Homo sapiens: one gene and its partner. The protein of the gene in region 1 interacts with the protein of each later gene in a biochemical or structural test. Each region holds a gene or a part of one and is shown on either strand. Other genes may lie near its edges. The genes, in order: RAPGEF2 and RALGDS.

Evidence for each region.
Region 2: the proteins of RAPGEF2 (region 1) and RALGDS form a complex in vitro, tested with the Homo sapiens proteins (one study listed by BioGRID).

The regions. Positions count from the first base shown.
Region 1 is NC_000004.12:159,357,944-159,360,830, forward strand, and holds the end of RAPGEF2 (rap guanine nucleotide exchange factor 2), read left to right. Parts: intron 1-170; coding exon 171-196; 3' UTR 197-2,230; downstream 2,231-2,887. UniProt on the Homo sapiens protein: Functions as a guanine nucleotide exchange factor (GEF), which activates Rap and Ras family of small GTPases by exchanging bound GDP for free GTP in a cAMP-dependent manner.
Region 2 is NC_000009.12:133,118,181-133,125,876, reverse strand, and holds the start of RALGDS (ral guanine nucleotide dissociation stimulator), read left to right. Parts: upstream 1-4,636; 5' UTR 4,637-4,722; coding exon 4,723-4,905; intron 4,906-7,696. UniProt on the Homo sapiens protein: Functions as a guanine nucleotide exchange factor (GEF) activating either RalA or RalB GTPases and plays an important role in intracellular transport. Interacts and acts as an effector molecule for R-Ras, H-Ras, K-Ras, and Rap.

The DNA of each region.
Region 1 (2,887 bases):
TTTTGTTGTTCGTCATTGTTTAGGAAAAAAAGACAAGGATTCTAAGTGAGCTATACTAAAAAGAATAACTATGATAGTTTTATTTAGCACATCAGTGAATATATTCTCTATAGCACAAGAAATTACTTGCTTGCTCATTGATTTCTTTTTCTTCCCTGCTGTATTTGCAGAAGATGAACAAGTTTCTGCTGTTTGAGGCACAGACTTTTCTGGAAGCAGAGCGAGCCACCTGAAAGGAGAGCACAAGAAGACGTCCTGAGCATTGGAGCCTTGGAACTCACATTCTGAGGACGGTGGACCAGTTTGCCTCCTTCCCTGCCTTAAAAGCAGCATGGGGCTTCTTCTCCCCTTCTTCCTTTCCCCTTTGCATGTGAAATACTGTGAAGAAATTGCCCTGGCACTTTTCAGACTTTGTTGCTTGAAATGCACAGTGCAGCAATCTTCGAGCTCCCACTGTTGCTGCCTGCCACATCACACAGTATCATTCCAAATTCCAAGATCATCACAACAAGATGATTCACTCTGGCTGCACTTCTCAATGCCTGGAAGGATTTTTTTTAATCTTCCTTTTAGATTTCAATCCAGTCCTAGCACTTGATCTCATTGGGATAATGAGAAAAGCTAGCCATTGAACTACTTGGGGCCTTTAACCCACCAAGGAAGACAAAGAAAAACAATGAAATCCTTTGAGTACAGTGCTTGTCCACTTGTTTACAATGTCCTCCTTTTAAAAAAAAAAAATGAGTTTAAAGATTTTGTTCAGAGAGTAAATATATATCCATTTAATGATTACAGTATTATTTTAAACCTTAAGTAGGGTTGCCAGCCTGGTTTCTGAAAAACCAAATATGCCGGACAGGGTGTGGCCACACCAAGAAGACGGGAAGACCTGGCTTGTGACCCTGGCTTCCCATGTCCTTCTGGTCTCACCCGCGAAGTGCCCTATCCTGGAAGTATGAAATGTTAGCCAATTAATACCAAGACACCTCATCTGCTCCTTCCCCAGTGGATGGGGTTCTTCTGTAAAACTGTTTGCACATGGCCAGGGGAGGGAACTAGGACCCTTGTGTCCTGTCTGAGCCTTATGGAGGCAGGACGGTGTCATTGGCGGATGTGTCCTGCTCCATTGAGATGGATGGCAAACCCCATTTTTAAGTTATATTTCTTTGATTTTTGTTAATTTAGAGGTGTAGGTTTTGTTTTTTGTTTTTTTGTTTTTTTTTAAGAGAAACATTTATAACTGGATAGCATTGCAGTGAAAGCAGCTTGGGATGTTGGAGCTAATGCCAGCTGTTTATACTGCTCTTTCAAGACAGCCTCCCTTTATTGAATTGGCATTAGGGAATAAACAAGCCTTTAAACGTGATAAAAGATCAAAAACCTGGTTAGACATGCCAGCCTTTGCAAGGCAGGTTAGTCACCAAAGACTAACCTCCAAGTGGCTTTATGGACGCTGCATATAGAGAAGGCCTAAGTGTAGCAACCATCTGCTCACAGCTGCTATTAACCCTATAATGACTGAAATGACCCCTCCACTCTATTTTTGTGTTGTTTTGCACAGACTCCGGAAAAGTGAAGGCTGCCAATCTGAGTAGTACTCAAATGTGAGGAACTGCTGGTCTTGGATTTTTTTTCCATTAAATTCAGCTGATCATATTGATCAGTAGATAAACGTAAATAGCTTCAAATTTTAAAAGTGGAATTGCAGTGTTTTTTCACTGTATCAAACAATGTCAGTGCTTTATTTAATAATTCTCTTCTGTATCATGGCATTTGTCTACTTGCTTATTACATTGTCAATTATGCATTTGTAATTTTACATGTAATATGCATTATTTGCCAGTTTTATTATATAGGCTATGGACCTCATGTGCATATAGAAAGACAGAAATCTAGCTCTACCACAAGTTGCACAAATGTTATCTAAGCATTAAGTAATTGTAGAACATAGGACTGCTAATCTCAGTTCGCTCTGTGATGTCAAGTGCAGAATGTACAATTAACTGGTGATTTCCTCATACTTTTGATACTACTTGTACCTGTATGTCTTTTAGAAAGACATTGGTGGAGTCTGTATCCCTTTTGTATTTTTAATACAATAATTGTACATATTGGTTATATTTTTGTTGAAGATGGTAGAAATGTACTATGTTTATGCTTCTACATCCAGTTTGTACAAGCTGGAAAATAAATAAATATAACATAAAGCCTTGCCTATATTCTTAATGAATCATGCATGCTTTTTATTATTAAATTGGAATAGAAGCCTTTCGTCTCCTGCAGAAGCAAGTCCTTCGGCTGGAGAGATTTAGCCTCATGGTTATTGGAAACTGCCCAATAGCCTATTTATTTTAGGCAGATCTCTGTTGATCCAAAGCAATTAATATCATTAACGTTAGCACCAGCCAAACCATGTTCAGAATTCAGTGTTTCTTGAAAATGAAGATGCTGTCACAATATATTTGCATAACATTTGTCTCTTCTCAACCGTTTCCAACAATAATCTTTATGGTACGTAATATTTTGGTTCCCAGTATACATACTGAGAGACAGGACCTCAGAGAAACTGACATTCAAGGTCATGATTATTAAGTGGAGAGTACAATTTAGCTAGTGATTCTGGACTTCTAACTAGTACACAATATGAGTGCTGATGTGTGGTAAGTCTGAATAATACTTTAGTCTATCAGAAGGGCACTTAATTTTAAAAGGTAAAAACCAGTAAGTAGCAGCCTGCTTACGCACATGTTTAAATGAGTGACTCATTTCTTTTCCTCAAGCAAGCATAACTAAAAGTATTAGCCATCAGCCACTGAGAAGTCTCAGAAGTCAGAGTGGAAGCAACTGGAAGCAGAGGCACCAAACACTGGAACATGTGAGGGAGCCT
Region 2 (7,696 bases), on another chromosome or scaffold:
AGAGAGTAATACAGGAAACGGTGAGCCTGGCAGGAGTCACTGCCCGGGGTCAGAAGTTTGTAGCCCTCTCTGGAGGACTGCTGGGAGCCTCAGAGGCATCAGAGGGTGAGTCTCAAGCTGTGTCCTTTTTCTTCTTTTTTTGAGACGGAGTCTTGCTTTGTCGCCCAGGCTGGAGTGCGGTGGTGCAATCTCGGCTCACTGCAACCTCCACCTCCCAGGTTCAAGCGATTCTCCTGCCTCAGCCTCCCAAGTAGCTGGGATTACAGGCACGCGTCACCATGCCAGGCTAATTTTTTTGTATTTTTAGTAGAGATGAGGTTTTACCACGTTGGCCAGGCTGGTCTTGAACTCCTGACCTCAAGTGATCCACCCAGCTCAACCTCCCAAAGTGCTGGAATTACAGGCGTGAGCCACTGCGTCTGGCCATTTTTCTTCTTATAACTTTTATTATGGATAATTCCAAATAGACACAAAAATAGAGAAAATGGCATAAAGACCCCCAGCTTTCACGACCATCGGTGCAGGGCCACTCTTGTTCACCTCTCACTGCCCCACTCCCTGCCCGCCCCTGGAGATGTTTACATGAATCCCAGGCATGTGATGCCATCCACAGATAGCCCAAGATGTAACTCTACTAGTGACGGCAACACCATTCTCACACCTAAAAAGATGTCTAATGTCATCCAATATGTAGCAGTGTTCAGACAATCCACATGTCTTATAGTTGTTTTTTTTAAACAGTTGTCTTGCTGACATCATGATCCAAAATCCACACATTGCATTTGTTAGACGTCTCTGACCCTTCTTTTAGTCTAGTTTCCCCTTTCTTTTTCCTCTGAAATGTATTTGTTGAAGAAACTGGGTTGTTTGTCCCATAGAGGTTCCCACAGCCTGGATTTGTGGATTGCACCCTTGTGGTGTGTTGAACATGTTTCTCTGTCCCCTGTAATCCCACAAATGGCAGTTATATGCAGAGGCCTGCCTTGATTTAGGTTTGGGTTTTGAGGAGAACACTGTGAGTGGTGCTGCGTTCCTCCACTGGTGACACACGCTGTCCCAGGATGGCCTTGCCCTTGGTTAGGGTGTCCCCACAGCTTACAGGAGGCCTCAGGAGAGGGTCTTGCATGCAGGAGGCGTCCCATGAATGCCAACCCCAGTTGCTAACAGTGTGAGGCAGAGTCAGGCCCGCCCGATCTGAGGGCATTGGGCAACACATCCTGTGCAGGGAACTTTATCTGTGCCTTCATTAGGGGGGCATGTGTATCTGTGTTTCTGTCTCTATGTGTGTGTATCTGTGTCTATGTCTCTATATCTGTGTGTGTGTGTCTGTGTCTATCTCAAACTTGTTTTTTCCCTTTTTGTGGAGAATGGGGTCTTGCTATGTTGCCCAGGCTGGTCTCCAATTTCTGGGCTCAAGAAATCCTGCCTCTGCCTCCCTAAGCTCTGGGTTACAGGCATGAGCCACCACACCCAGCCTCTGTGTCTGTCTCTATGTCTCTGAGTAGGTATGTCTCTGTCTGTGTGTCTCTATCTCTGCGTGTGTGTCTCTGTTCCAATGTCTCTGTGTGTGTGTCTCCGTCTCTAAATGTGTGTGCCTGTGTCTGTCTCTGTGCGTCTGTGTCTCTGTGTCTGTCTCTATGTGTGTGTGTGTGTGCCTGTGTCTCTGTCTCTATGTGTCTCTGTGGGTCTGTGTGTGTGTCTGTGTCTCTGTCTCTATGTATGTGTCTCTGTGTGTGTGTGTCTGTGTCTCTGTCTCTATGTGTGTGTCTGTGTGTGCATCTCTGTGTATCTTTGTGTCTGTGTGTGTGTGTGTCTGTGTCTCTGTCTCTCTGTGTGTCTCTGTGTGTGCATCTCTGTGTATCTTTGTGTCTCTGTGTGTGTGTGTGTGTCTGTGTCTCTGTCTCTATGTGTGTGTCTCTGTGTGTGCATCTCTGTGTATCTTTGTGTCTCTGTGTGTGTGTGTGTGTCTGTGTCTCTGTCTCTATGTGTGTGTCTCTGTGTGCATCTCTGTGTATCTTTGTGTGTCTGTGTGTGTGTGTGTGTGTCTGTGTCTCTGTCTCTCTGTGTGTGTCTCTGTGTGTGCATCTCTGTGTATCTTTGTGTCTCTGTGTGTGTGTGTGTGTCTGTGTCTCTGTCTCTATGTGTGTGTCTCTGTGTGTGCATCTCTGTGTATCTTTGTGTCTGTCTGTGTGTGTGTGTCTCATGTACAGCCAGAGCAGTGATCAGGCTTCCCAGAAGTTGGGAGGTGAGTCCCAAAGGTAGGGGAACAAGGCAGGAAGAGGAACTTTGTAAAAACAGACACCGGCCAGAGGGACTGGCTAAGTAACGCCCTCCCCCGCCCTGGCTCCTGTAGATGATATAGTCAGATGGGAGGGAGCCAGGCCAGCCGCGTTGGGGGGTTTAGTGTGATGAATTCTTTACTCTTCACCACTCCAGCCTCCTTGGGGCCACCCCTCGCCCCAGCACCCAGGACCTTCAAGGCCAGAATAGTGGTGATTCCTCTATGTCCTCATGAGTCACTTGTCCTTCTGGGCTATAAAACGGGTGGGCGCTTGTTCCCAGGCCCATCACTCAGCGAAGGAGATAAAGAGAGCAGAGGAGATAAAGTCAGTGGCAGGCAGCTTCTGGACTTTCAGTTTCCGGAGGCATTGGGAGCTTGGCCCCAGAAGAAAGGGATGGGAGGAGGAGCTTAGGGCCGAGGGCAGTGTCTCGGTCACCTCTTTGTGGCCCTGTGGGGACCTCCTGCCTCGAAATACGCCTCACCCACATTACCCTCCCTGGCCAAACGGCTTGGAGGCTTCCTAAACAGCCTCTAGGGATCTCCATCCCAAATCAAATCTACCCATCTTGCTTCTTAAAAAAAAAACAAAAACAGGCTGGGCGTAGTGCTCCTGCCTGTAATCCCAGCTCTTTGGGAGGCCGAGGCGAGCGGTTCACTTGAGGTCAGGAGTTCAAGATCAGCCTGGCCAACATGGTGAAACCCTGTCTCTACGAAAAATACAGAACTAGCTGGGCATGGTGGCAGGTGCCTATAATCCCAGCTCCTCGAGAGGCTGAGGCAGGAAAATCACTTGACCCCAAGAGGCGGAGGCCTTAGTGAGCCGAGATCACACCACTGCACTCCAGCCTGGGTGACAGTGAGACTGTCTCAAAAACAGCATTTATCACATAGAGCTGATTATTAAAATACTGATTTTAGAAATTAGAAATTCAGAGAAGTAAAATGAAAACCAGTAGAGCTTCCACCCAGCTGCAACTTACCACCATAATTTTTGTGAAGTAGGCCCTTCTAGTCGTGTGCACATGGGGGTCTTGTTCTGAACGGATGAACTGCCGCCTCACTCCAGTCACAGTGGAAGTGTTTCGTGGGTGTCTGAGGATTGGCACTTGGGAAGGGGGCAAGATGTGCTCGTGGAATGTGCTGTCTGGTCCCGCCCTCTCAGTTTACAGATGGAGAAACTGAGGCCCAATAGTACGGACCAGACCTGGGGAGGTTGGCATGGCCAGGGCTGCTGGCAGCAATTGCTGGCCTCCATGAAGACTGAAGGCTGAGGCCAGGGCAGGCCCAGTGATGAGTGAGGCATGAGGAAGGGTCCCATTCATTCATCCATTCTCCTGGCCCTGCTGTTAAGCCCCAGGCTGTCTTCCTTCCTCACTGGCTTCCAGAAAGAGTAGTTGAGGATGTCCCTGTCCCTGCTTCCCCTTCAGCCCCAGCAGCCCCACTTCCACCCTGAGACCAGGGATGTCCAAGCCACAAGCAGCCCCAGCTGACAGGCCACGCAGCCATGTGCTCTGCCCAGCGTTGTCACTCTTGATGCCTTCCTCCTTGTCAGATGCCTCTCAGCCCCAACCTTGGTGCCTTCCGCTCTCCCCCACCTCCCTGGCTTCCCCTCCTCTGAGGGTGTCTGTAAGGGGATAGTGTGGGGCTTTGCCCCAAAAAGGTAGGGCCCCACTCTCTGACCCTTTCCCCCACTGCACACACAGCCCCACACTCAGGATTTCCAATTGCACTGACAGGGTCACTGAACACATGGTCAGCCTCTCCAAACTCCGCCTGAGCCTGTAGTCAGGTGCAGGTGCTCAGTGCTGAGTGCTTCATGTCCATTACGTAATGTCATCCTCCCCGCAACTGTTTGAGGAAGTCATTTTCACTACCCAGATTTTCCAGATGAAGAAACAGTGAGGCTCAGAGGGGTTAAGCAACTTGTGGAAGGCCACAGAGTTGGGGAGAGGCTTTGCTGGAATTCGGGGTAGCTGACTCCAGGGCGGCTTCCCCACACATGATCAGCACGTACACATTTCAGCCCTACGCAACACACGCACTGCAGCAGCGTGACACGCAAACGGTGCCTAACCGGGGTACCCAAGGCCCCACGACACACGTGACAGCCGGTCCTCCGGGAGACCCAGCCAACGCGCACCCCTCGACCTCCCCGGCCCCGCCCTCTTTGTTCAGACCCCGCCCCTCCAGGCTCCCGGTCCCGCCCCGGGTCTGACCTCGGCGAGGGCGGGGCCGCGGGCGCGCGCACGCACGCGTCCCTCGGACTCTCCGGTTCCGCCCCTCCCCGGCCCCACCCTCTTCCCCTCCGGCCCCGCCCCCCAGCCTGACATCAGCAGGGCCGGGCCGCGGGCTCACAGCGGTGGCAAAGCCCAGCCGCGCGGGCCGCGCCGCCGCCCCCGCCGCGCGCCGGGCCGGCCCCGCGCCCGCGCTGCGAGCCTTCCATGGTGCAGCGCATGTGGGCCGAGGCGGCCGGGCCTGCTGGCGGCGCCGAGCCGCTGTTTCCGGGCTCCCGGCGGAGCCGCAGCGTGTGGGACGCCGTGCGCCTGGAGGTGGGCGTCCCCGACAGCTGCCCGGTGGTGCTGCACAGCTTCACGCAGCTAGACCCCGACCTGCCGCGCCCGGAGGTGGGTGAGCTGGGGCGGTCGGGCGGGGGGTGCGTCGGAGCCTCCCCACCCGCGGCAGAGCTGGGCAGGTCGGGGCGAGCCCCGGACGGGGCCGGGCGATCCCAGCGGGCCGCCTCCCTCCTCTCTCCTCCATAGGTGGGGGTCGGGGCCTTCTGCAGAAATCAGCCAGCAGGGTGGGCAGTGGGGGCTGCCGCCGCGCCCCGTCCAACAGTAGGGACCACGGCTGGGGTTTTGCGCCCCTCAATACCGTTCCAGGGCCTGCTGTCACCAAGGCCGCTGCAGCCCAGGTGGACCTTTTTCTGCGGCACTGTCCCTGTTTACATCGGTGGCCTGTGCCTTATTTCACTCAGTTCCCACCCAGGGCCCGCAGCGCGTCGTTAGCCTTTACGATGCAGGTGTGGAACAAGTGGTCGGGAAGGCCAAATCCTAGAATCCTCAGAGGTGATGAGACCATAGGGGCCTTCCAGACAGACCCTACTTGGGGCAGATGTGGATCTGGTGACCAGGGACATCGGGGCTGCTCAGAGCGGGGTGGGGGGGGGGTCGGGGGATGGGGTGGAGCAGCAGGCCTCCAACACGTGGGACCAGATGTCCTGGTGGTGAGGGGAGGAGGGTGGCCCAGGCCCAGGGCGGGCAAGACTTGTTTCTGCTTAACTGGAAAGAGTGCCAACACCCTGAATCGGTAAGGACTGGGTAGGATTCAGAGAAGGGAGTGGTGTACCTGTGATGGATGGAGGGGAGGGTGACTAGGTGAGGGCGGGGGCTTGTTTCTCGTGTGCCCTGGGTCTCTGGGTGGTGCCATCTGCCTCCCACCTGACTGCTGCTGACTACACAGCAGAGGGAGTGGAATCCAGAGATGCCCCCCTCGCCCTGCTCTGCCTGGGCACAGGGCCTGCACAGAGGCCATTCCTGGATCGGGGGCTCAGGGCCCATCAGAGCTTTGGCTGGGCTGCAGCCTTCACAGTGAACCTCCTGAGTCCCCGTGCGGCATCGTGTTGCCTTGCTGCGTCTCCAGTCGCTTCATGGCTTTAGACTGTGGCGCGTTGTGATTGCTGGCGATTGTTAGCCTGAGTCTCGTGCCTCTTGGTGTCCCGGTACCTAGACAGGGCCTGGATGCGACTTGTTTCTCCGCCCAGTGTTGGGCAGAGCTCTTGGTGGGGGAACACCACACGCCTGAGAGACCCTTTCCTCCTGAGCTTGGCAGATGGCCGGACCAGACGTGTTCCCTCAACCCTCATCTATCCAGGGCTCTGGTCCTCATTGGCGGCTGGAGAGGGACCCCTGGGAGGGTGGGGGTGGGAGGCTGACACCAGCCCAGCGCTCATCTGGCTTTCATTACCTCTGGCAGCAGCTCGGGCTTTGTGTGCTGGGAGGGTCCGGCGGAGCGCTCACAGTGGCCGTGCAGGTTCCCTCTCTCCGTCCCTGAGGAACTGAGGGAGAGGCAGAGCTGAGCCCCACCCCTGCCTGGGGGTCTTGTCTTCCCTCTCTCTGGCCCTGGCGCTCCTTGCCCAGCCTCAGCACTGAGATCCAGACCTCGACTGCTATTTAGAAATCAAAGGGGAAGCTTCTGGCTGGGTCAGGAAAACCAGGATCCTGGCAGGAGAGGAGGCCACTGCCGGAAACTGAACACAATGACCATTTACCAAGGGCCCAAGGGAGGGGGCGGGGAAGTCCCTGTCCCTCCTGCCAACACCCCCCGTCCTGGGGCTGGTTTCCTGGTGTCTATGTGGCCTGCCAGAGCTGACGCTGCGCACTTGGTCCCTGTCCTCTCTGGAAACCACCAGACAGTTTCTGCCTTCCCCCGCATCCCTGTTTCCCTACCTAGCTTCCACCCGGTGCTTCCCTCTGGGCTGCCAGATCTCCTCACATCTGGGCTTCCGCTTATCTTCCCGATTCTAAGCCAAGCCACCAATGACCCAGCTTGGCCTGCACAGTTCTTGCTTTCTGGAGGTGACCTGGTCCGTGCCCCCATCTCTGGACAGGCTGTTGCTTTGGCCAGACAAAAAGTGCAGGTTGTGGGCCACCCCCTCACTTCATCTGCCTTAGACCAACCCTACAGAGTAGGTGCCAACACCACCTTCTAGGAAGCTAGGGGGTCAGAGAAGGGAAGTCTCTGACCTAAACACCCGTGCAGCCAGCAAGGGCCGCAGCCAGGATTTAAGCATGGGCTGTGTTCTCTGTGGCACCTACTGTGTGCAGGAGCCACCAGGAGTCAGAGGAAGCCCAGGCAGCCCAGAAGCCCTGAGGTCAGGTGAGCAGTAGGGAAGCTTATGGCTCAGAGGAAGGCAAAAGTGCTTTGGGCCACAGGACGCTGGGGAGAGCTACCTGGAGGAAGCAAGCCCAGAACTGGACCCCACAGGTTTAAGATAACAGCTAATAAGAGCCAGCAGGTTTTGGGGAGGTCCTTGGCTAAGTAATTTGCATCATCTCCTTTTGGGGTCAAGACTGTTAAGAGCTCACTTGACAGATAAAGTCACTGAGGCAACAGAGGTGAATTAGATTGCACAGAGTGACCAAGCTGGTCAGTGGCAGGGCCAGGATTCTGACCCAAGGCCTGAGGGCAGTTGCAGGTGGGCTGGAGTGAAGAGGGCTTCTCTGTATTCACAGGGAGCATCTCCCTTCAGCCTCCCGCGTCTTCCCACTGTTTGATCTCTTGATCACACTGTGTGCAGGTCTTCGGTTTAATCCCCAGGGCTCATGAGCACTTTGACACTGAAGACCCCAAGGCAAAGGGCCTGTCCCTGTGTGGGTGTGTGTCCCTGCATGCATGTGTACAGACTGTGGTCTTCCA